3 linked regions of the Homo sapiens genome follow. The protein of the gene in region 3 interacts with the protein of the main gene of each other region in a biochemical or structural test. Each region holds a gene or a part of one and is shown on either strand. Other genes may lie near its edges.

Region 1 (10,580 bases), on a different chromosome or scaffold from region 3:
CAGTTCCTCAAAAGTTTAAACATGGAATTACTGTGTGGCTCAGCATTTCCACTCCTATGTATATACCCAAAAGAATTGAAAACCTATGTCCACATCAAAACTTGTACATAGATGTTCACAGCAGCATTATTCATAATAGCCAAAAAGTGGAAATAACTCAGCTGTCCAGCAACTGTTGAATAGATAAACAAGTATTGTATAGTCATACAGTAGAATATTATTTGGCCATAAAGAGGAATGAAATATTTACATATGCTACAACACAGGTGAATCTTGAAACATTATGCTAAGTAAAAAAGCTAGACACGAAAGACCACATACTGTATTTCATTTATATGAAATATGTAGAAAATGTGATCTTTGGAGACAGAAGGTAGATTAATGGTTGCGAGGAGCAGGAGGAAGAGGCAATAGGAAGAGATTGCTAATGCATATGGAATTTCTTTTTGAGGTGTTGAATATGTTCTAAAATTAGATATTGGTGATAGTTGCACAACTCTGTTAACATACTAATAACCACTGGATAGTACACTTTAACAGGATGAATCTTATGACTATATGGATTATTTTTCAATAAAGCAGTTATAAAAAAGGATAACTCAATTACCTTTACTAGACTACATTTAACTTTCCAAGTTTTAATTTTTTATTTAAAATATTCTGTAGTGATGCTTTATAAATCCTGTGATAGTTGATTACTCATAGATGTATTTGAAGATAAAATAAAAATATATATCACAGTGACAGTGTTTTATATTTAAATAAATGTGTAGTAGAATAATTTGTACTTGTACTTTTTGAATAAAATGTTAAATAGAATTTTGTTCTGAAATTTTTTTTGTTACGTTTATTGTGGGTAACTATTAATAAAAATTACATATGGACTATAGAGTGTATATGAATTCATCTCAGACTTATGCCACAATAGAAAATAAACTAGAAATGGAATTGATGATGTTACTTAATTCCTAATACTATAAATTGTGAAAAATCATCAAACTACTATTGAATGTTTCTTAATATTTTTCATGTTAAATATTAAGAAAACTTGAAAAAAATTATAATTTGGAAGTACACCTGTAACCTGTGAGTAAAACAGGACTGGGTATTGTAGTGGAGTGAACTTTCATAGCTAGGACAATCAGACATTTCCAAGATATGTCTCCAGCACCTGGCACAGTGTTTGACACACAGTAGAAGTTTTAAAAATATTGATTGAATGAACAAAAAATGTGATGCTGCATAGTAATTTACTCTAAGTAAATTTTCTCTTTTGGCTGATTCTTGCCATTGACATTGAAGGCTGCCTTTGAAGGAGATTATTCCCTGTATAAGAAATACTAAAACGAACAAATAAAACAAGCGGTTAATTAGACTTTTCTCAGCTAGACACACTTCTAAAATCTTATATCTTTAGTTTTTAAAAATTCACATTTAATGAGGACAATTTACACACAGTAGAGTTCATCCCTTTTAAATGTGCAATTCAATGCACTAAAAATGATAATATAGTCATTTAAAATACTACTAGAGTGAGATATAGAACATTTCCATTTCCCCAAATGTTCTCTCCTGGCTCTTTGTAGTCTGTCCCTTCACTCCACCCCCAATCCCTGGCAACCATTAATATGATTTCTGTCCCTGTAACTTTACCTTTCAGGATGTCATATAAATGGAGTAATACAATATACCTTTTGTGTCTGGCTTCTTTCACTTAGCAAAATGCCTTTGGGATTCATCTATATTCTTGCACACATCAGTAGTTCATTCCTTGTTATTTCTGAGTAGTGTTTCATCTATAGTTTCAAATTTTCGAAAAGACAAATTCGTTGGATCATGTCTATGCATACATAAGTATTAATAACCCAACAACTTTGGATGACCTTACTGCATATTGCAGAAGTATGAGGTAATTGGTTCTGCTGGCATGTCCCACATGTGACCATGGATGTTCCTGTTCCAGAACATTTAGCTTGCAGCTATACTACAAGTTTGGGGATATTTCATAAGTAGCTCTTTAATACTTCCCTGAACTTCAGTAGCAGTTATGTGTCAACTTAAACTCAGGATTTTATTTATTTTTTCTCCAAACGTCTAACTAGCTTAGCTGATGCCCTTGCAGTTTACATTATCTCTCTAGAGGCTGGGTGGTGATCTTAATTTCTGTGGACCATCTGGACAAATATTAAATAAAGAGCTCTTAAGCCTTGACAGAAATGGCTGCCACACATCTCAAAAATAATTGTGGTTTCTAGGCCCATGATTTGGAAAGATTGATGTATTTTATGGCAATACAGCAGGTAGGAAATAAAGAACATATTCTAGTCTATATATTCTAGTATACTATAATCTGCTTTTTTTGGTTTTGCTAAGTCTGAGTAAAGGGACATAACTTAGATGTAGTTCTAAGGCAGCAGAAGTGTGTTAAATTTAAAATTAAAGACCAGTTTCTATTTTATCTTATAGAAACAGTCAAGTGCTTGATGAAGATAATATATTGAATGAAACACCAAAATCCCCCGTGATTAATTTACCTCATGAGACTACTGGTGCCTCACAACTGGAAGGAAGCACAGAAATAGCCAAGACCCAGATGACTCCCACAAATAGTGTGGTGAGAAATTTGATATCTCATCCATTTATAACATGTTCTTCAAGTTATTATGAAGGCAGAAAAGACAACTGAAATTAGGCCTATTATGACAATATTGCCAGCATTTATCTACTTTTGCTGATTTTAAGTTAAGCTCTAGAGAATATGGCAGTAATCCAACAGTTAAACTAATAGAAATAATTTCTTTGTTCAAGAAATTTTATGAACTCAGTCTACAGTTGCATATGGGTATTTTAATGGTAGTATTCTGCAAAGCAGATATTTTGCAAATTCATTCAAGATGTGTGATTATTTTTAGTAATTTATAGGTGTCTTTTTAGTCTTTCCTAGGTGAAAATAGAGACTGCAATAAGCAGCAGCCAATCCTTGCCGAGAGGAAAAGAATCCTTCCAACTTGGATGTTAGCAGAACATTTAAGTGATCAAAACCTTTCAGTACCAGCAATCAGTGGAGGTAGGTTTTTGTTTCTACTAATGCTGACTTTAAAGGAAACATTAAACAGAATTTGAAAGCTTTTCTGAAGAAAAACTATAAACTAGTTCTATAGAGATAGAGTAGAGGTTGTGTAAGTGTATAGCCTAGCCTAGTTTTTTTAGTTGTGAACATGAAGTCTAAAACATAGGCTATTACTTTATGCCATTTATCAAATACCACCCTAATTTTTTTTCATTTAACAAGTGCTATTATGTGCTAGAATTATATTAATAAAGACTTCCAAACAAACCTCTTGGTGCTATGTCTAGGATAAAAGGCCAGCACAATAAGAGGGTTTAATTTGATTTTTAAAAATGCCAGACGAATTGATATACTTTCAAGTTTACTGATTCTTTTTTCTGCCATCTCTAATTTGCTGTTAAGTCTATCTAGTGAATTATTCATTTTAGTTATTGTACTTTTCAGTTCTGGAATTCCTCTTTGGTTCTTTTGTGTAAGTTTATGTTTCTCCGATGAGATTCCCCATTTATTCAATCATTTGGTGTATTTTTCTATAAGTCTTTGATCATATTTATAATAGCTGCGTTAAAGTCTGCATCTACGTACAACTTTGCCATTTCAGACTTAGTTTTTATTGACTGCTTGTTTTCTTTTATGGGGTCACATTTTCCTGTGTATTCTGTGCCTAGTGATTTTCTATTGATACTGGATATTATGGATGATACATTGTAGAGGCTCTTGATTTTGTTATGTTCCTCTGAAGAAGTATTTTTGTTCTGATAGCAATTAATTTGGCTGGATTCAGAGCCTACCCTGTTTCCCCTGTTATGTATGGCAGCTGCAGTGTCTAGGTAGTTCCTTCACTTTCCAGCTGCTGCGTTTTTCTCTGGGTCCTTGGGCCCCATACAAATGTAGTTTAGGAGTCAGCCAAGAATTTGGGTCAAGTTTTTATGTAGGTTTTTGCTCTTGCCCCTTCTGTGGCTGCCTTCCCTCCAGGATTTTATCACTCACCTCTGCCTGTTCTCCTAGCCTCAAACTCTCTGCTCTGACCATTTAAACCAGTAAGGTTGCAGCTTTCTGCCACGTGTGACTTGGAGAAGGCCTTCAGGAAAAAAGTCACAAGTTCACAAACTTTATAGATTATAGTTAATTTTCAACCTTGACACTTCTCCAACTCTGCCTCTTTGGTCAATCTCCAGTGCCTACAGATAGTTTGAAAAATATTTTTTTCCTGAATTTACAATGATTTTATTGGCAGTAATTACTTTAGTTATGCTGTTTTTCCATTTTACCTTGAACATTGTTTTTTAAAAATTAACAGCACAAATGAATACACATTTTAGTTAGAAAATTACTACTCAGTGCTTTGTGTATTCTGCACAGTGGTCATAGAAGTCTTCTAAAGTTTTGGATCACATATATTATGTACAGAATATATCTTATTTAATGGTAGTTTGGATTATACTAGGATCAAAGTGTTCTCATGGGAAAAGTGCACTATACTTTATGTGTTAAGGGGCATGTGGTTTAATCTGGAGAATTTTCCAATCTAAGCCTAAGACTTTTGCAGTAAGTTATTCTACTACAGTTGTTTTCAGTTCTTCCCACCCCCACAGTTACTTCATGTGTAATATATATATATATATATAGGCAATAACATCTGTGTATGTGTTGATCCTCAATTTGTAGGAAGGAAATGGGGAATTGTAGTGGGGAGGGGCAGACACTTTCCCTCAGTAGAATAATTTCTCTGATAAAAGAAAGACTTAACTTGACCAAAAATTGGACCAATGTGAGCTGGTCCCTGCAAACAACTCCTTTTCTTTCAGAATTGTTTTGTACTGCAACTGCTTCTGTGCTACTGCTTATAATAATAGTTCAACATGTATTTCATTTCAAATACGTTTTCTTTCCCTTGGTAGATGTCCCACATAAAATATGAAGCACGTTTTTGGGCACTTCTCTTTGAAAATACGAATGAGAGTAATTTGACATTGGTCTGGAATATCGCATGTGTACAATGTACTTAAAATGCTAAAGCTTCAAAATAAGATAGAAGAGTCTTTGGATTCAGGTAATCTTTTTATAAACTAAGACCGTGGGAGAAGTACTTTATAAGAACAAGATTAGGTTACTTAATTCCTTTAAAGACAGTTTAGTACTTTAGAACAGTTTAGTACCTGAATCCTGCTAATTAAAAGTTAAAACAATTAGACTTATTCTGTGGTGCTGTTATTTTTTAAAAAATTGTTTTGTTTGTTTAAGTAATAAATGATGGGGATCAATAGGCCAATATGAGAGATTTTTAAAAATTAATTCGCAGGATGCATTTTGGTTTATTCAGACATGAGTAACTTTCATATGTCTTTTGCAGCTTTAGGACCATAACTGTGGTTATTGGTCTTTATGTAGATTATCTGAAACTAACTTGATATTTTGGAACCTTTGGAATCCTTAGGAACAGGACAAATAACATGAATTCATGTTATTTGACTTATCCAAGATCATATAATAAATGCCAGAGCTGTAACTGAGACCTAGCTCTGACTAACTTTAAAGCCCATGTACTAAGGCATATCACTGTATAGCTGCCTAAATTTACTCTTTATATGTTTGGTTTTTGTTTGCCTTTTTTGATCTGCCCTTGCGATCTCTCCTGGATCATCTCTCAGTTTAACTCTTTAATCCTTTATATGTAGGGGAATTTTTGCTGTTGTCAGGCTTTTTCATTTTTCAGCCAATACAGTTTATTATTATTATTATCATCACTATTATATATATATTTTTTATTTCAACAGGTTTTTGTGAAACAGGTGGTGTTTGGTTACATGGATAAGTTATTTAGTGATGATTTCTGAGATTTTGGTGCACCCATTACCCGAGCAGTGTACACTGTACCCAGTTTGTAATCTTTTATCCCTCACTCCCCGACCCTTCCTCCCAAGCCCTCAAAGTCTGTGGCATCATTCTCATGCCTTTGCATCCTTATACCTTAGCTCCCACTTATAAATGAGAAAATACAATGTTTGGTTTTTCATTCCTGAGTTACTTTACTTAGAATAATGCTCTCCAATTACATCCAGGTTGCTGCGAGTGCCATTATTTCATTCCTTTTTATGGCTGAGTAGTATTCCATGGTGTATTTGTATATATATAGAGAGAACAAATCTGGAGGCATCACGTTTTATATATATAATATATATAATTATATATAATGTTATATATAATATAATAATATATTATATATCCTATATAACATTATATATAATATATAATATAATATATATAATATAATATATAATAATATAATATAATATAATTATATATAATAATATATGTTAATATATAATATATAATAATATATTAATATATAATATATAATAACATGTTATTAATATATAACATGTTAATATATAATATGTTATTAATATATAATATACTAATATATAATAATACGTTATTGATCTATAACATATTAATATATGTTATTGATATATAATATATCAATATATAATAATGTTATTGATACATAATATATTAATATATGTTATTGATATATATAAATATATTAATATATGTCATTACTATATAATATATTAATATATGTCATTACTATATAATATATTAATATATGTCATTACTATATAATATATTAATATATGTCATTACTATATAATATATTAATATATCATTACTATATAATATATTCATATAGTAATATATGTTATTACTATATATTAATATATCTATATATTACTATATATTAATATATCTATATATGTTATTACTATATATTAATATATCAATGTTATTACTATATATTAATATATCAATATGTTATCACTATATATTAATATATCAATATATGTTATTAACATATGTCAATATATGTTAATAACATATAACAATATATCACTAATATATGTAATTAACATGTAACAGTATATCACTAATGTTATTAACATGTAACAATATATCACTAATATATGTTATTAACGTAACAATAATATATCACTAATATGTTATTAACATGTAACAATAATATATCACTAATATATGTTAATATATAACTAATATATCACTAATATCTACTGTTAATATATAACAGTAATATATCACTAATATAATGTTAATATATAACAGTAATATATCACTAATATGTGTTAATATATAGCAGTAATATATCACTAATATGTGTTAATATATAGCAGTAATATATCACTAATATGTGTTAATATATAGCAGTATTATATCACTAATATGTGTTAATATATAACCGTAATATATCACTAATATGTGTTAATATATAACAGTAATATATCACTAATATGTGTTAATATATAACAGTAATATATCACTAATATATAATAATATATAACAGTAATATATCATTAATATATAATATATCATTAGTATATAATATTAATATATATTAATATATAATATATCATATACAATATTAATATATATTAATATATAATAATATATTATTAATGTATAATAGTAATATAATATATTATCAATATATATTACTAATATATAATAATATATCGTTAATATATAATAGATCATTAATATATAATGTTAATATATTATGAATAGATAATATATCAGTATATAATATTAATATATTAATATATTATATATTATTTAATAATATATAATATATTAATAAATAATTATATATTAATATAGCAATATATTAATATATGACTGTATTATATTATTAATATATAACAATATATTATATATTATATAATAATTTATTATATAATATATAATAATATATTATATATTATATAACATATTAATAATACATAATAACATTAATAATATATAATAATGTTAATATATTATTATATTATATATTAATATATAATAATATATCAATAATGTATCATGAATATATAATATATCAATAATATATCATGAATATATAATATATCATTAATATATCATGAATATATAATAATATATCATTAATATATCATGAATATATAATAAATCAATATATCATGAATATATATCATTAATATATCATGAATATACAATAATATATCATTAATATATCATGAATATATCATTAATATATAATAAAATATTAATAATATATCATTATATAATAAAATATTAATAATCTATCATATAATAAAATATTAGTAATATATCATTAATATGTAATAAAATACTAATATTATGTCATTAATATGTAATAAAATATTAATATTATATCATTAATATATAATAAAATAATAATATATCATTAATATTAATATATTATATAATATTATTAATAATACATAATAATATGCTATTAATATACAATATCTGATAATATATTATTAATATATAATAATATATAATATATGATTAATATATAATAATATAATATATAATTAATATATAATAATAATATAATATATAATTAATATATAATAATATAATATATAATATATAAAACATATAATTTGACATTTTATATATATATAAAGACTTGACCAAAAATTGGACCAATGTGACTATATATTTATAATATATAAATATATATTATCTATATTTATTACATAATATATTATATATTATATATCATTTATATATAATATAATATATTATATGTATATTGTATATATAAAATGTCAAATTACTCTCATTTGTATTTTCAAAGTGAAGTGCCCAAAAACATGATTCATATTTTAAGTGGTACATCTACCAAGTGAAAGAAAATGTATTTGAAATGAAATACATGTTGAACTATTATAAGCAGTAGCAAAGAAGCAGTTGCAGTACAAAACAATTCTGAAAGAAAAGGAGTTATTTGCAGGGACCAGTTCACATTGGTTCAATTTTTGGTCAAGTTAAGTCTTTCTTTTATCAGAGAAATTATTCTACTGAGGGAAAGTGTCTGCCCCTCCCCACTACGATTCCCCATTTCCTTCCTGCAAATTGAGGATCAACACATACAGAGATGTTATTGACAAAAAAAAATTACACATGAAGTAATATATATAAATATATGTATATATATATATATTAGTTTCTTTATCTACTCATTGACTGATGGGCATTTGGGCTGGTTCCATGTTTTTGCAATTGCGAATTGTGCTGCTATAAACATGTATGTGTAGGTGTCTTTTTCATGTAATGACTTCTTTTCTTCTGGGTAGTCAGCCAGTAGTGGGTTGCTAGATCAAATGGTAGATCTACTTTTAGTTGTTTAAGGAATCTCCACACGGTTTTCTGTAGTGGTTGTTCTATTTTACATTCCCACCAGCAGTGTAAAAGTGTTCCCTTTTCACCACATCCACACCAACATCTATTATGTTTTTGATTTTTAAATTATGGCCATTCTTGCAAGAGTAAGGTGATAATGCACTGTGGTTTTGATTTACATTTCCCTAATAATCAGTGATGTTGATCATTTTTTCATATGTTTGTTGTCCATTTGTATATCTTCTTGTGAGAATTGTTTATTCATGTCCTTAGCCCACTTTTTGATGGGATTATTTGCTTTTTTCTTGCTGATTTGTTTTTTCTTGTAGATTCTGGATATTAGTCCTTTGTCAGATGCATAGTTTGCGAAGATTTTCTCCCACTCTGTGAGTTGTCTGTTTACTCTGCTGATTATTTCTTTTGCGTGCAGAAGCTTTTTAGTTTAATTAAGTCCCATCTATTTATCTTTGTTTTTATTGCATTTGCTTTTGGGTTCTTGGTCATGAAGTCTTTTCCTAAGCCAATTTCTAGAAGGGTTTTTCTGATGTTATCTTCTAGAATTTTTATGGTTTCAGGTCTTAGATTTAAGTCTTTAATCCATACTGAGTTGATTTTTGTATAAGGTGAGAGATGAGGATCCAGTTTCATTCTTTTACATGTGGCTTGCAAATTATCCCAGCACCATTTGTTGAATAGGGTGTCCTTTCCCTACTTTATATTTCTGTTTGCTGTGTCAAAGCTCAGTTGGCTGTAAGTATTTGGCTTTATTTCTGGGTTCTCTATTCTGTTGGTCTATGTGCCTGTTTTTATACCAGTACCATGCTATTTTGCTGGCCGTAGCCTTGTAGTACAGTTTGAAGTCGGGTAATGTGATGCCTCCGGATTTGTTTCTTTTGCTTAGTATTGCTTTGGCTAGACTTGTTTTGGGCTGTCTTTTGGTTTCATATGAATTTTGGGATTGTTTTTTCTAGTCCTGTGAAGAATGATGGTGGTATTTTGATGAGAATTTCATTGAATTTGTAGATTACTTTTGGCAGTATGTTCATTTTCACAATGTTGATTCTACCGATCCATAAGCATGTGATATGTTCCCATTTGTTTGTGTCATCTATGATTTCTTTCAGCAGTGTTTTGTACTTTTCCTTGTAGAGGTCTTTTACCTCCTTGGTTAGGTATATTCCTGTTTTGTTTTTTGTTTTTGTTTTGTTTGTTTGTTTTTTTGCAGCTATTGTAAAGGGTTGAGTTCTTGATTTGATTCTCAGCTTGGTAACTGTTGGTGTATAGCAGTACTACAGATTTGTGTACTCTGGTTTTGTGTCCT
Region 2 (10,580 bases), on a different chromosome or scaffold from region 3:
TGAGTTGGCCTTTTGTAGATTCCACGTATAATTGAGATCAGGGGGTCTCTGTCCTTCTGTGCTTGAGTCATTTCACTCGGCATAATGTCTTCCAGTTCAACCACATTGTCGCGAGTGTCAGAATTTCCTTCTTTCTAAGGCTGAATACCCCTTATCCATGTAAGAAACCCAAAAGCAAGAAAACAAATAACCCATTTCAAAAATGGGCAAAGAATCTGAACAGATATTTCTCAAAAGAAGACATACAAATGGCCAACAGGCTTATTAAAAAATTATCAGCCCCACTAATCATTAGGGAAATGCACAGAAAAACCACAACGAGGCCGGGCGTGGTGGCTCATGCCTGTATTCCCAGCATTTTGGGAGTACGAGGTGGGCAGATCACAAGGTCAGCAGTTCAAGACCAGCCTGGCCAATATGGTGAAACCCCGTCTCTACTAAAAATACAAAAATTAGCTGGGCATGGTGGCGAGCACCTGTAATCCCAGCTACTCAGGAGGCTGAGGCAGGAGAATTGCTTGAACCTGGGAGGTGGAGGTTGCAGTGAGCCGAGATTGTGCCGCTACACTGCAGCTCGGGAGACAGAGCAAGACTCAGTCTCAAAAAAAAAAAAAAAAAAAAAAAAAGATAAAAGAAAAAAAAAACCACAATGAGACATCACCTCAGACCTGTTATAATGGCTACTATCAAAAAGATGAACCCCTAAAATGTATACAACTATTATATGGCAATAAAAACTTTTTTTAAAAAAGATGAAAGTTAACAAGTGTTGGTAAAGACGCGGAAAAGGGAGCTCTGGCACGCTGCCGGGGTGAACGTGGACTGGTACAGCCATTATGGAAAACTGTAAGGAGTTACTAAAAAAACTAAAAATTCAACTATCCTACGATCAAGCAATCCCATTTCTGGGTATATATACAGATCAACGGACATTACTGTGTTGAAGGGACACCTGCACTCCCACGTTCATTTCACCCACAACAGCCACGCTATGCAAACAATCTACATGTCCGCCAGGGTGAGTGGGTCAAGGAAACGTCAAGTCTGACATTGTATGAGGAGGCCACTGGACTAGAAAAAAAAAAGCTCAGTAAATGTGTCATCCACTAGAACCAAACCAGACTGACTCTCAGCCTCTTAAGAAATCACAAGCGGTGGTGGCGGTAACAATGCTCTTTATTTGTGGCGTTTAAAGGCGGGGTTGGGCGGGACAGCGCCCTTGCGTGTATTAGGCACAGGTTCGGAACGCAGCATCTTTCCAGGGGCTTCCCTACTAGCTCAGCCCCATAAAGTCACTGGTTTCCTCCATCTGGACCAGCAGCCGCACCAGCCAAGGCGCCCACTGGGTGTCGGAGGTGGGCGATGTCAATCCCCGTGGCCTTCGTCGGGAGGGTGGAGCTGGCCAAAAAGAGAGCGGTACAGTTCTGTCCTAAAAGACAAACACAGCAAACTGGTTAACACACTGGTTCACTATTCAAGGTTAAAAAGGAACGCAGAAGCTGGAAAATACCCCATTCTGTTTCTTCTGTTGAAAACACAGCCATGTAATTAAAAATGCACCCCACAGCTCTTACTCACAAATACAACAGAAGGAAGAAACCCAATCAAACAGTAAAATATGTAAATGGTCCAGTGCGGCTGGACACCCGTCTCCAGGGAATGAGTGTTCTGTAAGTTTGCCCTTTGCAGACAGGCTCTTCAAGTAAGAAAACAAGATTGAATATTTTAATAGGATGTAGGAGACCGCCATCCGATGAGGAGGATTCAATCAGACATGGGATGTAGGGGGATATAATTTAGTTTTCATACATTTTCTTGGACTTGGCAGTACTTGAAAAACAATGAAAATGAGCCAGCAACACGATTCCAATTACTATCATCTGTGCAGTTGTTCAGGAAGAGAACCAAGCTTCTTCCACACTCCCCAGCTGCCCTGTCTCTATTCTCAGTCTAATAAATAATATGATTGGCTAATTTATTTCTAAAGTTGGGTTTTGACATTAAAACAATAACATGCCAGGGTCTTGGGCCCCTAAAAAGAAAAGTAAATGACCACTTTCAAACTCTTTTAAATGCAACATACACACAAACATCGGCCAAAGCCATGTGTCAAGGCCTGGAAAACCTAAAAGGGGTGTGGGTGGGGCAGGGATCTTTCCTATCGTTGAGACAGAAGCTCCAGAACACTTTCCCCTGTGGATACAGAGCAGATCCTCCCTGCAGAGACATGAGGGACCCATGAGGTTCCAAGCAGGCAAGACCCGTGTGAGGACGTCCCTGTCATCAGGGAGGTGGGCGTGTAGCACGTGGCCGCAGAGGCAGCCATCCATGTCCACGCCCTGCAGAAGGCCCAGCCGGTAGCCCTCACAGAGACAGGGCAGGCGCACACAGGGCTGAGGTCATGGGCCAGGAGCCCCAGAAGAAATCTACACCTGCTCGGATATTCTCAAGATGGAACTCAAATTCCAGCCTGCCGTCTTGTTTTAAAAGTGCTCTCATCATCTGAGGGTCAGCATCGGCACATCAGACTTTAAAAGCAAAACCAAAAAACCCCACCTTTCAAACAGCAAGGCTTCAACACAAAAAACTACTGGTCTTTTTTTGAAGTCACCCTACTATAGTTATGGATAGGAATAAAGGTACTACAATTAGGAAATCCAACAAAAGGAATAGAGTATCAAAGCTTTAAAAAAGTCAAAAGAAAAACATCTTAAGGAAGAACTACAGAAGCCACAAATGTAAGCTAGCCTTATCATGTTGGGGACCGCGGGAGGGACAGGCAGTGAAAGTGCAGGCCAGAAAACAACAGGCCTCCAATTTTATTACAGGAATTTTATCCCAAGAATGTGCTGGTGCCTTCACCCTGAACTACCCAGCAGACCCCTAGGCCACAGACAAAGGACACAGCTTCCCCCTTGGCTCCACCCATCTCTTCTGCTCTTCTGTTACACACATCCATGTGACTAGCCTCAATCAGCCCAGACGAAGCCTGCCAAGGTGGACGGCAGCCCCAGACCAAATGCAAACCCACGGCTTCCAAATCAGCAGCTCCGTCACACGGATACTTCGGTGCCCAGGGCAGGCTCCACTTCATCACACCATGGCCTGCCTATTTGCCAGTAAAGACAAGTCTCTCTAGCTGTTTCCACACAAAAAATTAAATGGCGTGAAAGGGAGAGTTGCCATAACAAAAGGACAGTGTGACTTTAGGACAACAACGTCTGATGAGAAAGAAATGCAGAGGCGCGAGGCTAGCCCTTCACATCATACCCTTTCCAGCCTCGCCGCGCTTGCCTGCACCAGACCCCATCATTACCACTGAGCAAATGCTTCCACTCTGCGCGCAATATCAGTGCAACGCCTGGGCCGAAGGCAGCAGTTACTGTCCGCAGCAGGGTTCACGTGTCAGGAGCAGAGAGTGAAATGCTGAAACCCATGTTTTCATAGAACATCATTTCACACTCAGGTGGGCAAAGCTGACAAACATATGCAGCTGTTCATGGCAAAGCAACCTGGGAAGCTGAGTGGTCTGGGTTCTTAAAATATTTTCAGAGAGAGAGAATATCAATAGGGGATTATTTCAATCTAAAAGTCCCCAAGCAATTTCAACTTTTACATCTTCCTCACCCACTATCACCAGCTGGTGACCGTTTTTACCTTCAAAGCATCTCAAACTTCACAGCTCCTCCAGGCTTCCACTAGGTCAGATCTCACCGTTTCTCATGAAGCACACAGCAACAACCTCCTGGCTGACTCTTCCACTCCCTTCTCTGAGACAGACAAAGCAGACCCTCCCTGGGGCCCAGGAGCAGCATGGGGATGAAGATCCCCGCCCCACACGCCCCCCACCAGCCACCCCCACTGTAGATTCCAGCGGTTCAGCTTGGCCTCAGCCCTTCCTCTTTCCAGGTCCTGGCTTTGGCTCCTGCCCTGAGCAGCTGGGTGGTACAGGGAGGCACAGCCCTTCCTCCCTCTTTACTAGGTTGGAGAAGGTAGGGTTGCACATTTTTATAACGTTTTTCACAGTAAGTTTAAATAGTTACAAAATATATAATGACCAGGATGTTGTGAAAATTAACTTTTGTAATGCCTGCAATGGAACCTACATGCCATAATGATTTGATACTCATCGTTCATTCAAGTAACACATAAACTATTTTTTTTTGAGATGGAGTCTCGCTCTGTCGCCAGGCTGGAGTGCAGTGGCGCAATCTCGGCTCACTGCAACCTCCGCCTCCCGGGTTCAATCGATTCTCCTGCCTCAGCCTTCCAAGTAATTGGGACTGCAGGTGCGCACCACCACGCCCGGCTAATTTTTTATTTTTAGTAGAGACGGGGTTTTACCATGTTGGCCAGGATGGTCTCCATCTCTTGACCTCATGATCTGCCCGTCTTGGCCTCCCAAAGTGCTGGGATTACAGGCGTGGGCCACACATAAACTTTTTAACTTGGACATTTTATAGCACCTTTTTCTTTTTAAATTTTATTTCCACCTGACTTTTCCCTACAGAGTTTTGTCCTAATATAATGGTTTCATGCTTGAATGTCTTTTATCAATCACCCTTATCATACTTCTTGGCCACATTAGTCTGTAAATAAAAGCACTTTTGAAATTTTTAAAATTCAAAAAATTGAAATGAAAATATTTTAATTGTTTGACATTATAAGGCTCTAAGTAGTTTAAAAATGTTCCTCTGGATTATTATTAGGATATAATCAATATATAATAATATGATATAATATATCCTAATTTTAGTGAAAATTTAGTATTCATACATGTGTAAAATGTTATTAGAAATGCATCCCTTAATGATATGGATGAGGCTTTTCCCTCCATTTGTTCATGGATCCATGGAGGAATATTATTTATTGCCAGAATGAAGGAGGGTTCAGCATCAATTCTACTCCTATTTTTTTGTTTTTTGTAGACATAAGCACTGAGAAATGTTGTCATATAAACAAGCAGATAGGAATGACAGAGTTCTGGCATAGCAATGCCACTTGATTCTTTTTGCTCTTTCTGAATTATACAGCACACACAAAAAATCGCACAGTGACTCGTCCCCAAACATTAGTCCTAACGGTCAACCAACTGCCAACTCAATTCAACTCGTGTTCTCCAGCGATTCTGCTGGAAGTGAAGACCCAGAAACCACCCGGCCTGCACAGGGCTTGTCCTCTAGTCCTTAGGCGTTTGCTTTCTCAATCTCTGTACCCATATTTCCAGCTGTCCTTGGGTTTGAGGCCCTGGAGGTTTTCCTGTGGCAGCCCGAGGTCCATGTCACTTTAAGGAGGGGCTCGAGGGAGGCTTTTCAAGGCCAGAGAAGGACGAGGGTAAAAGGACAACCTAGCCCTCCAGCACAGGCCTGCTCTGGGGCAGACAGCTTTAGGAAAGAGCGTACGTCTGAAGACTGACTCCTTGACTATCTGTGTCTACCTTCCCCTTGGAAAGTCTCTGCATACCCCAGTGTGAAGACTGAGCCACAGGGTGCACTGAGCTCTTCCTCCCTCAAACCTAGGCAGGTGTCTAGGTGCTTAGGGAAAGGCAAAGACATCTGAAAAGAAACAAAACATGTCCACAGCCCTTACCCCATCCCAAGAAAAACTGCAAGTAAAGACGAGGCTACAAAAAGGTGCCACTGGACAGAGGGCCAGACCGCCTTCCACTGCATAAACATTTCCCCCCGGCTGCATCTTCCTAACTGGGATTTAGCCATGTGGAGAAGCTAAACTATCAATCCTCCAGGTTAACCTTGTTCCATCAGATTCTCCAGGGTAAGTGTGTAGTTTCATACCTGAGGTCCCCTTAAGGCTATGCATAATCAACTTTTTAAAAAAACACATAATTCCTGCTCCCCATCACATTAAGAATCAAGATGCAAATCACTGATCTGTAATACCCCCACCCCCCAGCACACACACACTCATGGTCAGTGGGAGTGTCCACTGTAGACAATGCGTTCATGCTGGTATCATGCAGGGGAGCAGCCTGCGGAGTAATTAACAGGACTTGGACCTGAGGTAGAAGGTCGATAGCAGGGGCTCTTCCTTGAATTAAAATTTAACTTACCCTTTATTGCAAACTACAAAAGCAAGTAATGAGCACTAACATTTTTATTTCTTTTAAACTGTCATTAAGCTGTAGAGGGGATAATTACCTATCTCTAGTGCAGTAAGGTTTTATAACCCTTAGTGAGGCATTTTCTAATTTAATATTTTTACTATATTATCTTAAAACCTGTTTCTAGAAAAAAAAATGATCATGGATTAGCCGCCATTTTCCATAAAGACAGAATGTGCGTGTGTGTGTGTGTGTGTGTGTGTGTGTGTGTCTGTCTGTCTGTCTGTCTGTCTTAGGATTCGGCTTATTTATTATGTGATTCTTCTGAAGAGACTTAAAGTATGCACATTGTAGCTAGCTGTGAACTGCAATCACTTGAGTGGCAGGTAAGGTTTTAAAAGCTCTGAGTGAAATGGGGGTGTATGTGTATGAGAATGCAGCCCCTCACCGATGTGTGGACCCAAATATGTTCCTTTCAGTTCCACATGTGCACTCACCCCACCACAATACAGATCACTGTCTTTCACGATGTCACTTGGGCAAACAGTACAAAGGAGCATATTAAACCTGCAAATAATCTGTGTGGGGCTTTCAATTTGCTAGGTCAGTAGCTTGCAGCACTGGGGATTCTGAAGGAATTGTACCATCCACTCTACAGAAAACCACACTCCTCCTACACTGGCCCTGGAACCCCCAGGCCTCCAAGACATCCCTGAGCTGTACCTACCCACAAAGACAGGTGGACAGCAGAGAGAACACAGCCATTCCACTGCTCCCCGAAAAAGCCTGTGCAGCCTCCCAAAGCGCATCATGGTCTCCGAGCAAGTATTATGTGCCAGTCTTCCAAAGGAGCTGGCGGAGACAATGCTGCTGCTTTCCAGACGAAAAGTGACTCATAGGCCAGGTATGGTGGCTCATGTAATCCCAGCACTTTGGGAGGTTGAGGTGGGAAGACCACTTGAGCCCAGGAGTTTGAGACCAGCCTGAGCAACACAGTGAGACCCTGTCTCTATTAAAAATAAATAAATACATAAAATGATACACATAATTTGCCTTTGACTAATTAAAAATTGTTCATTTGTTGCTTCTTAGGAGTGGGGGGTCTCCCTAAATACATAAGACACATCCCAGAATGTCATGGCCCTTCCTTCCTTTCTAATCCTCTACCTCTCCCACACTGCACACAAAAGTGCTGTAGCATTTGCTTCTGCCTTAACTCAATCCCATACATACATTGCAGAATCAAGGGAAAAGAAGAAAGCACACGGCAGGCAAGTCGGACAAAGGGTTCCAATCATAGCAGCACTCACGGCTAGCAGGGTCTGGATCCGATCTGAAACCCTACAAGTAGAGTCTGCCCAGATATGGTCAGTCAGCACAGAGATTCACACACACGCCTGCTCTGCACAGACCAGCGCGGTCACCAATGACAGATGTGTGCTTTTAAAATTATTGGTGATGTACTGATGCTGCCTTTTTTCACGTTTGTCTTTGAAAACAATTTGCTTAGTGTGGTGGAAGCTTAAACATGTACTAGATGTATATGATTCCTGGCCTCAAAACCTAACATACTACAGGTATAATCAATTAATTAAAAATATTTGAATGCTTATTTGAACTTTGTTAGATTTTGTGGAGGTTCACAAAGACATGAAAGGCACAGCAGAAGCTAGATCGGGAAGGTGAATACATGCAGTAAGTGTGTCTCAGACAAACCACTCCATTTGGGGAGACACACAAACATTCTTCCTCCTGCTGAACCCAATTCTGTCATTTTAGGACTTACAGCCATGGGCTCTTGTCCCTCTAAAGCCAGAGAGAAGTAAGGCTGACTACTATTCCCTGTGGCAGCACTTCAACTATTTGATGTCTTCTTCTAACTAAATCTGTTCTTTTCCGGGTTCAGCGGCCTCAGTTGCCTCCATTCCTCCTGTGACCGAGTCTGCTTGCCATCCTGACTGCACTCCTATGAGCCCTCCATTTGCCAAAGCTCCAAAAGCAAGGTCTCCAGAACCCGCAGCCCTCGTGAGCCCAAAGCAGGTGGAGCAGGACTCCATCTCTCCTGCACTCTGAACACATACTTCTCTCTCTGTCTTCCCAAGGCCTCCACTCTCTTCTGTTCTATCTATCAGTATGCCCAGGGCCTCCCAAATGTCTGCGGAAAAAGATGTCTTGCCAATTATCACTTGGCACATGCTAACGGCACCAAACAAAGGGATCCTTCTCCAATAAAGCACGTGCCTCCATTCTGATTGCCAGAAACCAAAGTAGGCCAAAGGGCAAAGGCTACTCACTCCTCCATTTTCCTCTTAAAAATGTCTACAGACCACAGGACAGCAGCTTTCCCTTTTTTTTTTTTTTTTTGAGACGGAGTCTCGCTCTGTCACCCAGGCTGGAGTGCAGTGGCGCCATCTCGGCTTGCTGCAAGCTCCGCCTCCCAGGTTCACGCCATTCTCCTGCCTCAGCTTCCCGAGTACCTGGGACTACAGGTGCCCGCCACCACGCCTGGCTAACTTTTTTTTGTATTTTTAGTACACACAGGGTTTCACTGTGTTAGCCAGGATGGTCTCGATCTCCTGACCTCGTGATCTGCCCGCCTCGGCCTCCCAAAGTGCTGGGATTACAGGCGTGAGCCACCGCGCCCGGCTTGGACAGCAGCTTTCTTTTCTTATATACTTAGAGAAACCAGCTTAATAGAAATCTTGAATAGTTAAATAGAACAAGGCGAATGCTTTTATATGGCATAGAGCATGGTATCACAAATGCAGAGGGGCTGGAAGGTGCTGTCAGAGTTGGTTCTGACTGGCTCAGGTCCTTACTGGGTCTAGGACCTTAGGTAAATTACTTAGCCCCCTGAATCTTAGCTTCCTCATCAGTAAGATGGTGACAATATCTTCCTTAAACATACTGTTTTTACAGCACTAAGCAAAGTCCGCATTGCATAAATGGCATCGTCATCTATGATCATGAGAAATGGAATGAGACAGAGCAACATGCTGAGGACCTGTGTGCATGCATTACAGTTGCTCCCAACCAACACGAGGGACTAAATGGCACCCTCCTTTCATCATTCCTTTGCTTTCCCCGACCCAAATTCATCCTACTCGGTATCAGTGACTTTACAAATGAGAGAAAGATATTTGAGAAGTGTCTCTATGACCTAAAAGGAGAAACATACTGATCCAAATGGCAGGCAATCGCCCTGTGCTCTTTGGGGCTGTGTGGTAGGGGCAGCCCTATGTATGTCACGGGAATGGGCTCAGACACAGGTGACATGCATTAGAACTTAGCTCCTCAAGGCTGGGCGCAGTGGCTCACACCTGTAATCCCAGAACTTTGGGAGGCCAAGGTGGGCGGATCACCTGAGGTTAGGGGTTTGAGACCAGCATGGCCAACATGGAGAAACCTCGTCTCTACTAAAAATACAAAAAATAGCTGGGCGTGGTGGTGTGTGCCTGTAATCCCAGGTACTTGGGAGGCTGAGCCGGGAAAATCACTTGAACCTGGGAGGCGGAGGTTGCAGTGAGCCGAGATTGTGCCATTGCACTCCAGCCTGGGCAAAAGAGTGAGACTCCATCTAAAAAAAAAAAAAAAAAAAAAAAAAAGAAAAGAAAAACTTAGCTCCCCAAGAAGGCTGGATTGCTGGGAAAGTAATCCAAGTAAAAAGACACAGTGCTGATAAGGAGTTAGTATTTAGTCAGAATGACACAAAAATCACTATAGTAGAAAACTTAGGATTTCTGAATACGGCCAAAAAGTCGGTACTTACTCTCCCTCACTCTCCTCTTAACATCCCCCAACAACCCAAGGAGGATCACAGGCTTCTCTCCTGAAATCTCATCATAATTCCATACCAAAAAACAAACCAAAACTGAACAACAACAAAAACCCCCATAAAAAAACCACAAAGCAGAAGAAAGGAGGTAAAGGGGAAAGAAAGCAGTCTTCTTTCAGCTAAGACTTATTTCTTAACAGGATCAACTTAGCAAAATAAGAATGACTCAGAGACACCCCTTATCTATCACTAATTACCTAAATCTAGATACAAGGCAAATCATGTCCAATCCGACACTAGCTGAAACTCTTCACAAGGTTCCAAAACAACAAAACCGCAGCCGCCCGAATCTGCCACAAGGTGGCAGTACACGACTCGTTTCCAAGTGGACCCAGCCACCAGTCAGCGGAGCCCATAAATTACCCCGTGTGTCTGCTCTCATCACCATCCTCCCCAGTGCTTGAAGGAGACTCTAGAAGGTCTGTTCCAATTCGTTCTTTTGGTCAGGTCAGAACTAGGTCCTTCAAACCTCTGGAAAAGCTTTTAGCCCTACAGCTCTAAATTACACATGGTGACACACGGCCTCTGGCCTGTCCCCTAAAGATCAGACAGACTCAAGATTTATAAATGTTCCAAGAAGCAGGTTCAGGCCCCAAACAAAGGAACTGAGAGGCTGGGGAACAGGGAGGAGAGGGGAGAGGGATGGGGGCGAGAAGGGGACTGCACGTGGACAGGTTTTCTTCT
Region 3 (10,580 bases):
ATGATAAAAATCCATTTACTATAACAAAATAACTACCAAATTATATATTCAGCCACTTAAAGACAGCTTTCTGAAAGTCTGAATAAATGTATTAATCCCCATCAGATTCTCTTTTTCTTGTTTTTATTGTAGGAAAAGCACACAGGAAATTGCAATATCTAAAATAAATTCACAAATTTATTTGTATTCAAAGAGCAAGTAATTTATTATCAAGATGGCAGAATAAGATCAGGAAGAAATTCTCACTGCTCTGCCTCAAAAAACATAGTAATACTACATAGAGTACCAAAAAGAGAAAGCTGTGTTCAACAGAATTATCTCTCATGGACTAAAAACATATTTTGTCTCTGTAGAAGAATTAATTGTGGAAACTGGTAAATTATAGGGTGGCCCATTTTGTTGTTTAACATCTACAATTTTCTTTCTCAGATCTATGAAATCTAGTTCTTGATTCAGTGTCAAGCATTTGAGATGAGATTTATTTTTCTATTTCAGTCAGCATCTGTTTCCTAAACATTTCTTTTTGCAGCAGAAGAAAAAGGGTAAAGTTCTATTATGCTATTAATTCTTGACATCGAAAACTTACTAAAAGCAAGTTAAATGCAAAAATAAAAAATAAAAACAGAGACCTATAGATCATATGTGTAATGAACTAGATGTGGGCTAAAGAAATAAAGACACGTAAAATAGAGAAAGAACATGAAATAAACTAAACATTTCTGAAGAGAAAGGAGAATTTTGCCAAATTGAAAATAGTACAATTGTAGCTTAAAGTTTTACTTAAAATAGACTGAACACATAAAAGTCCTCTTTCTCATATAGCCATATTTAACCACGTATTTTCTCATCAATAATTTTCACCTACTTCAAATATTGGTAAGATACTCTGACTAAGAAACAAGACCAAAGGTCATTGTATTTAATAAAAATTCTGAAAGTTTAAACTGGAAAGAGTACAAATTATCTTTGTAAGTTTTTCTCTATTTGATTATTAAATAATAATTTCATTTTAAATGGGACACTAGGGTAAAACAAGCATAACTGCCAAGTGAAAAGAAATTTCATTCCCAAGTGCAAAAGTATGATTGTGTGTGTATTGTGTAATCCAATTCAAATCTGATTAGAATCAGATGAATCAACCAGTTTAATCAATGTTAATAAGTTTCTGTGACTGCAGTTAGATACTTTCCTGTGCCTTCATCTGTTTATTCTACCTTTTCTCCTGTCATTATGGGGAGTGACTATGCTCCTGGCTAAACTAATCTACTACTTGTCCCTTGGATCCCATCCACTTATATTTTTAGAGACAGATTTCCAGTAGTTTTTCCTCTGTCTACTGCCTTGATGGTTTTACCTGCTCTCTTTAGTTACTCTCATCAGTATACAAACATATTCTTTCTTTTATTTAAAAACAACAAACAAAAATACTTTTCTTTATCCTACTTCCTCCTCCAGCTGCCGCCCCATGTCTTTCCCATTTTTTACAGTGAAATTTGTTGAAAGTATTGCCTGTCTCATCTCCAGTTCTCTCCTCCCATTCCCTTTGAAACTCCTATTCTCTCCTATCCCCTTCCTTCACCAATCCAGTGAATATGTTCTATTAAGATCCTTAATAACGTTTGTATTGCTAAATCCATCAATCAGCAGGATACCACATTTATATTTTTGCCTCTTACCTCCTGGCTGCTCCTTCTCAGTCTTATTTGCTCAGTCATAACCCCTTCATCAGCAAATCCTGCTGCCTCTAAGCACACCTAGAATCTGCTCCTTGCTCATCGCCTCTCCATCACTCTGGTCTAAGCCAGCCTCATCCTTCACCGAATTGTTGTACTAGCTTCCCATCTGTTATATCTTCTTCTGCATTTGTCATCCTATAGTCTATTCTTAACACAATACACAGACTAATCCTCTTGAAATTTGAGTCAGATTATGTCACCTGACTGTTTAAAATCCTTCAGTAGTTTCCAAGTTAATTCAAAGTAACAGGAGAAGTTCTAATGGTAGCCTATATCGCCCTACACGTGATGAGGTCCCATCATCTCTCTCATCTCATTTCCTAATTCTCCCAGTCTTCATCTTTCTACTTTATCCAGATTACACTCTATAGTATTGCTTAAACGCGTCAGGAACTTTGTACTTAGTGTTTTTTTGTTTTTGTTTTTGTTTTTGTTTTCTGTTTGGCATGGTCTTCCCCAAGACAGCATGTCACCTTCACCTTCTCACTGAGGCCTTTTCTGATAGTCTGGCTAAAATCATAACCCTCATCCTTATTCTCACCCTGACCTTTCTAACGCCTTCTCTGGTTTATTTTTCTCTTTAGCACTTATCAACCTAACATATTTTATATTTATTCATCTTATATGTTTCCCTGACTACAATTTAAACTCCACAATGGCACAGATTTTTGTGTTTTGCTGTCTAATGCATAGCAAAGTTTCTAGTACATAATAGGAACTCAAAAATATTTTCTAAATAAATAAATCAAGCATTTATTTTAATAGTATTGGTTTTAGGTCAAAACCATCTAAGTATAAAATGAGTTCAGAGGCTCCTGTTTCCACCGTCACTAGGAAATCTATAAAACATTTTAAAAAATAACTCATGGGTTTAAACACTTGCTGGGAACTTGATCCAAAGGACTGAGTAAGTCATAGGTACTTTGTACTAAACTGCCATTTTTCCCCTTCTCTTTTCCTCTATTACATCTCACTTGTTGCAATCTTTTTTCTGAAGAGTGAAAGAAGGCCTCAACTTCAGTATAATTTAGAGCATTCTTGATTACTCTGCTCCAGTGGCCTATTCATGGCTTTAGCTAAATAAGATCTCAAATGTTAAAGGCAACCAGCTTTAAGCTGATGATATTTAGCATAAAGGTGTTTCTTCCTCATTGCTTATGCTTTTCCTGGTTATATTTAACCAGGAATAGTATACCTTGGAGTATATGTGTATGAATGCTTGCTCACACTGCTGTGCTAATGAGTTGCTGCATTTTACAAATAATATTAAGTTTTAACATTAAAAATTTGAGTTTTTAAAATAAAAATGCTAAAGAATTTTCATAGAATAAGGTCTTTCACAACATTTTTCCATTATGGTTTCTTGTCATTAGAATAAGAAGCCCAAATAAGATATTCAACAGAGGAGATAAATGTATGTATCTCTTACCTGAAGCCAACCCAGAGAGATCAGTTTGGTTTTCACTTTCCTCATCAGTACTCTCATCATAGACTGGATCTCGGTCAGCAGTCATTTCAGAACAGATTGCAGTTTCCCTAGAAACAGAGAAAGGTAGAATTATAAATAACTGGCTCACCCCCTGCTAGGCAGCAGATTTATCAGTAAGCAATTATAGAAAATATTCCTAGAAAAAGATTCTAATTAGACAAACATATTGAAAATATATATGATTTAGATGAAAGCATCTTAAAACCTATATATTAACTCTCTTAAGAACAAGTTTCTCTTTTACCTAATTTTAATCTGAATTTAGTACTTATTATAATTAATATTAAATCAGTTTCTTATCAGGTACTATTCTTCCATCAAAATACTTTTTCTAACAAATTATCTCTGTGAGTCACAGAGTATTTAACATTTTACTAATCTCAGAACAGTTCGCATTTCATTTGATCTCTGCAAAACCCTAAGATGGGTATCTTTACCTTTATTATGAAGATAAAGTGACTTGTCCAAAGCTATAAACTAATAGGTATGACTGCAAGACCAGTACCTGTGCTAGGACTAGCTGATATCAAATTTTTTTATACTACGTCACTGGTAATTCTGTACTTCTACTAAGATTCAAAGCAACAGACCCTAACTTGTATTTGCTAATGCGTAAAAAAGTTATAATCGTCGAAAGCCGTATCAGCCATTTGTCACTTAGGATTCTTCCATAAAAATCAAGTACATATGTACTTTCAGAGAATATGTGAAAGAAGAATAAAACTGATAATCACACTCTAATCAGATAAAATAAGTGCTCCCTGGAATTTAATATTAACCACTTGATTCTAAAGTTAATCATTGCCTAGACATCAAGATTACAAATATGCATCCAACTTTTGTAGTTCTGCAGATGAAAGTTTTTTTTTAAATTAGTATGTCTTACTAATGTCTAAGAATTAAATAATACTTTAATAAGCCTCATGTCAGTTTTTTAATTTAAGTGTAGGTGACACAGTTGAGCAGACATAGAGAGACCATGCTGAGAACTCTCTAGCCCATGGTACCCCTATCTAACAGCCTGAACATCCACATCCAGACTACCAAATTATCTCATATGATCAAAAAGTTGGCATCTAATGTTCATTAACTTTGGGAAGAAATTCCACTTAAATGTATTCATCTGTCATCCAAAAACAAGATAGCGAAAATACCCTTCTTGTTTGATGTCCTTTTCTCGTTCTTGAGCTGCATTTAATAATTTATTATGCAAACTTCTGATTTTTGTTTTCTTCTCATTCAACACCAGAATAAACCGCTTATAAAGATCAGTCTCCAAAGCTTCCTTAGCACTCACACATTTTTCAAATCTAAAAAAGTAAATAAGTAAACAAATTAGTCATGCAGTTCTGCTTAGCATTAACATAATTCAGCCTAATAATCAAGAAGATTTCAAGGAAAATACAATTAAAGATTATTTTCACATATGCTTTCACTGACTTGGAAGTTTTATAAAGATGGTTAAATACACAATTAGAAATTATTGGTTATTAATGTAATTTATTTACTGAGATAAGGATCAAAATTGAAAACTGATACAAATAAGCCTTTAGAAAATCAAAATGCCTAAAGATAATTTATTGATACATATGGTTTATTTACAAAAGAATGTTTTTATGGGATAAATTTCAAACAAGAGTAAATGTAGCCTGTTTCCTCAGTACTATGTTAATATTACTATAAAAGCAACTACAATCTTATTTTGTGATAAGGCAACATAGCTAATTTGTCTGATTTATCTACTAGACAACAAACTGCTCCACAACAAGAACACGACTTATCCAGTTATATTCTTATAAGCGAGCACCACACACACACACACACAAATACATATAGAAATGCAATACACATACCCAATGAAAGTATTCTACTTGATATATTCAAGGAGAGATTAATAAAACAGCAAATGTAAAACACTACATATCTTCAAATTTAGATACGTAAGACAAAACATACAAAATTCTCTATTGTTTTTAATTCATCCCATACTGCTCAAATGAGCTAACAAGGGATTGTATTTATTTTAAGCTCCCAAGAGATATATAAAGAAAGCAAAATAGCTGAGGTTGTATATACTTAATATATGCATACACATACATGATGAATACATTCCTATTTTATTGATTCAAATACAAATTATTTTATGTATTCTTTTCAATGTTGTTTCATACTGCTTATTTACATTGTTGTTGTTTTACAGGTATCCTAGTATTTTTATACTGTACATAAACACACACACACATATATACCAGTAGTAATATATATGTGTGTGTACATATATAGACACACACATATATATTTCAGTGAAATTAGAAACACAAATGTCCAAATTAGATAGCTTTTATATACATGCCCTTAAACTTTCAACAATCTACCTATCTAGAGATGCAAAGAATTAGAACGTATCATAGGATAAAAAGGAAAATATGGCAATATATTCTCTGGGACCAATTTCAGCAAATTCTTACAGCACAGTCTTTGCCAAAGATGTGAACTCCACGAAAGCAGACAGCATGTGTGTTTTATTGGCCACTGTATCCTCAGTGCCCAGCATAGTGTTTAGCATTCGACAGATGTTTGGTAGGTTCTTATTAGACAAACGAATAAAGTGAATAAATTAATATGGACATCTTTTTGGTTTATTTATTTTCCCAGTGGTTTATTCGTTTTCCCAGCTTTTCTGCAGAGTTATTACAAGGCCTCAACAGTGCTTTAGTTTTTCTTTTCAATATCCTGTTCTGCAGCTTCCTTGGTCCTTTTTGCCCAGAGGCCAAAGAGCCAGGCATTGATATGGCAGGTTTTTTGTTTTTTTTTTTTTTGAGACAGACTTTCGCTGTTGTTGCCCAGGCTGGAGGGCAGTGGCACGATCTCCACTCACTACAACCTCTGCCTTCTGGTTTCAAGCGATTCGCCTGCCTCAGCCTCCCGAGTAGCTGAGATTACAGGCACCTGCCACCATGCCTGGCTAATTTTTGTACTTTTAGTAGAGACAGGGTTTCACCATGTTGGTCAGACTGGTCTCGAACTCCTGAGCTCGTGATCCATCTGCCTCAGCCTCCCAAAGTTCTGGGATTACAGGCGTGAGCCACCGCACCTGGCCTGACGTGGCAGTCTTGAAGTTCTCTTCCTCCTTGGTGATGACTCTGGCTTTCTCCTTCGTATAGGTATTTCATATGAACATTACCGGTCCTGTCAGTGTGATGGCCAATTTGAGTTCTTCAGTGTAGCTGTCTCTCTTCTCGGAGGCTGAGGTTTCTAGAGAAGGAGGATAAGCTTCCAGCAGTACTCCTACAGCTGTTATACATTGGCCTGCAGGGACTCAGTAGACTTGTCTCACCTCCTTGGATCAATAGAGAAATCAATGGTCCAGGCCATCTTCTTGTGGATGCTGGCCACCCTTAATTCTTCCAAGCTGAAGCCCCTACCAGCTTGTACTTGGTGTGAAACCTCATGTGGGGCATTTTACTAGGGGCCAGTGGGTCCAGATACAAGGCACCGGGCAATGCAGTGGGCTTGCCCAGTCCCATGTCTGTGGCTCTTCCTTGCAGGCTGGGTGAACCATATTGCTATAGGCCACTGCCAGTACTTACAAAAGTGGGGCTTCAGGATTATGCCATTCCTGCTGGGCACCATGGCTGACTATAGCCCTCCAGCAAAGAAGAAGAGCCAAGGAGAATGGCTAATATTGACATCTTATAAGGAAACAGAAAAACAGTGATTCCGAATATTGTATTTTTTCCCTCATTTAATAGCTATTCACCATTGTAAAAGTAATGTTTTTCATCTTCAGCTTTTAAAAAAACTGTGGCAAATAATATCAATCTAACAGTATTCCCTTCATTAAGCAAAGTTCTCTGAGAAAGAAGTACACGAAAGATGTTAGAAAAAAACTGAATATTGAAAAGGAGCTAGCAATATTGATAGTTTATTTTAAGCAAAGACATGTCACTACATTTATATTTCAGATTCAGTGTTACGTAAGCATGATATTCTTATCTTCCTATAATATTTTCAAAAAAACACAACAAAAAACTTTAAAACATACATATTACTGAAATACCTGAGTATATAATAACATACTTCAAACATATGCAAAGTAAAAACCAATATGTGAAAACATATAAACAAATATATTACAATTTCTTATATTAAATTTTAGGAATGGTAACCAATTAGTAATTTATCTGGTTTAAGTCCATATTTAATTTCCATATAAGTCACTTCAATAATTCTTGATTGAATGATGATGTGTACTTAACAACTAACAAGCTAATTCCCAAACCTTTATTAAAATTAACATTTGGTATGACACATTCAAAGTGAAAATAAATATGAAAATGAAATATCATATAATATTCCTAAAGAATATTGTTAATCTTAAGTAACCAGTATCAGATCTATGTTGTCAAAGGAAACATTTCTGTGACAGGAAAACACAGTCAATAGAATGAATGGTATCATGTGAGTTAACCTTGCTTGGTTTCAGCAAAGCTTTAGGATTTTTTTGCAACCAAACTTCTGATCATCAAACTGGACAACACTTCCTAGAAAAGTGGGGGAGCGGGAGCTGACTGGAGAAAAAGTATTAGTGTGAACAGTTGCATGACATGAATTTACTCTTAACTTTTAATTTTTCAAGACTCAGAGAATGCTATCCTTTTATCCAATAATCAGTAACTAAGAGGTATGTCGTATCATTCCCACCTAATTTTTAATGCCAATCCTCTCCTAGAGCATTATGATGTTACTATGCATTCCATTACGTGCTTCCTGTCAAGCTTATGCCTCAAGAAATTGGACAGGAACTGTTAGGTGAGAACATTTAGTGGAGAAGAGACATGGGATTCACTGCTAAGTCTGGTGACACTAACAAAAAGCCCATGTACAACTAGATCAGACCACACTAGTCCAAGGATCAAATCCAGGCAAATCTCAAATTGGGACGAAATCACAAATAACATCAAACAAGAAAGGTCTAATGATACTTCATCCTTTCTACAATAACTAGGAAAACAGAACAATAATGCTAAATTTAATTAGCAACCTAGCACTGAGGTATCTAAAACCTTGGACAAAAAAATAGTAATTTTTTTTAAAAAATTAAAAGGATAAAAAAATACAAAAAAATACTGAATATTCAAAATAAAATGTCTCTGGGTGGGAAAACAATCTAAGAATAACATGTCAAAACAATAACAAACTAGGAGGAAAAACACAACAATTTCATGCAGAAATAACACCAAAAATGAAACAACAGATTAAATGATAGCTCAAAATAAAATAATAGATATATAAATGTGAACATATGGTATTTAGACACAGTGCAGTAATCCTTAAATTAATAATCAGTTCTGGCCAAAATTATATCTGGCCCAGGTCAGGGTTGTATGTCAAAAGAAAGTCTGAATAGAGTTGGGAAGACAAAGAAAGCTAAAAAGAACTGGAAAAGCAAGCAGTGGTAAAGAGATTTAATAAGGCTTTAAGTACGGAAAAAGATGGTGAACAGCTGTTCCTCATCCTTTCTGACAAGAGAACAAGAGGAAATGGCCTTCAACTATACCGTGAAGGATTCAGATTACCCATAGATGGAAGAAAGAATTTTCTGACTGCGACAGTTCTTAAACACTGTAACGGGCTATCAAGAGGAGATGAAGATATCTCTTGAGGTCTTTAAAAATCGGACTGAATTCATCTGGATATAATGTGATTGTATCTTGAAGGCAGAGAGATGAAGTAGAAGAGCTTTCAAGGTCTTTTATTTTGATGATTCTGTGAGTGTCAACCCAATTCCCTGAAAACTGCCTCCAATTATGGGTTTAATAACTATAACTCAGAATAAAGGCAGGTAATTTCTAAGTAGAGGTCTGAGTGCAAACAAAACACCTATTCAGTAACATGGAACTTGAGAGTTTTTATTTGTAATTAAGTAGAAAACCCATGAAATAAATATAGCCAGTAACCTAAGGATTCACGTACACATCTTAAATGTTTCCTCCTTTATCTACACTATACAAAATTAATCCACTGATGCCACTTGTTCAAAATGGAGCCAAGAACACAATTATTAAGTGGTAATTAAAAATAACAGCAAATATATATGTTAAAATTCTATGCATTAAAGCTCACACTTTTTACTTATGCTGTAATTTCTCATTCCTCACTCAAGTGTTTATTCTCCACCATCATCCCAAATGAAAATAGCTTTATAATTGTTTGATTATAATGGTGATACATATTTAAATACTAAAACATATACAAAAAATACTCCCCAAAATTAAAGGAAAATGTAGTCTACAATTCCAGATATACACTATTAACATTTAATTTTCTTCTTCCAGATACTCTCTATATAAATATATTTTTTTGCAAACAATGGGATATTGTTTATATTTGTGGTGATGCACATCTCACCTTAATATATGATCAACATTTTCCATGCTAATAAACACATGTGTACACAACTATTTTATTCTCATATAATATCCTATGGGGTAGTAAATGTATCTCAGACCCATCTACCATCGCTTCTATGGGAATTCCCATCCCTTACATTGTGTCCTTCCCCACTATTTTAACACCACCCTCCCATCCCTTCATATGTAGTATAGAAGAAATGTTTGGATCATGAATGGACACTGACCCAAAAATAATCGGAGGCTTCCCCCAAAATTAACTATTGCCAGGCTTAACATCATGGCCCCAACTCTAATGATTCTCTACTTTCTATGTCCCCAGTTACCTAACTCCATATGCTCATGTCCTATTTCTAATCTCCCTAAAGACACTTAATCAGAACTACTGCCTTATGGAAGCTAAAGCTGTAAATCCTTTCCAGCATGCAAAGGCTCTAGTGAGGGAACACTAAGAAACTGCTGCTTGGCCATGATCAAGATGTATTTACAGCTCCTTAAAGTGGCCTCTGTCCTCTGAAAGGAAAGAAAATCAAATTTGGGAAATATTTAAAGCTACTAATCTAAGATCTGGAATACAATAAAGAGACTAGAATTCTCTGGAGTGGACTCTCTTTCCTCTCAGGACATAGGGCCACCCACTGGCACACATCTATAGACCCTGAAGAAGACATCTGACACAGTACTATCAAAAAAATAGCTGGATCATAATAAAGCAGGTGACAGGGTACATGGCTGTGCTTTTGATCAAACAGGAAATCTCTTCACAACAAGACAAAAGCACTTGCTGGATAGTCCAGAAATAGCAAATCAAGCATCTGTGAGCCACATATAATATGTGCCCCTCACACACACTGTTACAGCACAGGGTGCATTTGTCTCTAATTCCCCATCTTCGTTCCCTGCTGCTTTCAATTCTATGGGAGTGGTGTTGAATACTGATGA

What was found.
Region 1: the proteins of XRCC4 (region 3) and APLF form a complex in vitro, tested with the Homo sapiens proteins (one study listed by IntAct).
Region 2: the proteins of XRCC4 (region 3) and AATF form a complex in vitro, tested with the Homo sapiens proteins (one study listed by BioGRID).

The regions. Positions count from the first base shown.
Region 1 is NC_000002.12:68,510,614-68,521,193, forward strand, and holds part of APLF (aprataxin and PNK-like factor), read left to right. Parts: intron 1-2,466; coding exon 2,467-2,614; intron 2,615-2,934; coding exon 2,935-3,067; intron 3,068-10,580. UniProt on the Homo sapiens protein: Histone chaperone involved in single-strand and double-strand DNA break repair.
Region 2 is NC_000017.11:37,047,450-37,058,029, reverse strand, and holds the end of AATF (protein AATF), read right to left. Parts: intron 5,776-10,580; exon of another isoform or gene 4,868-5,775; intron 1,430-4,867; coding exon 1,366-1,429; 3' UTR 1,159-1,365; downstream 1-1,158. UniProt on the Homo sapiens protein: Part of the small subunit (SSU) processome, first precursor of the small eukaryotic ribosomal subunit.
Region 3 is NC_000005.10:83,197,507-83,208,086, reverse strand, and holds part of XRCC4 (DNA repair protein XRCC4), read right to left. Parts: intron 4,536-10,580; coding exon 4,380-4,535; intron 3,273-4,379; coding exon 3,166-3,272; intron 1-3,165.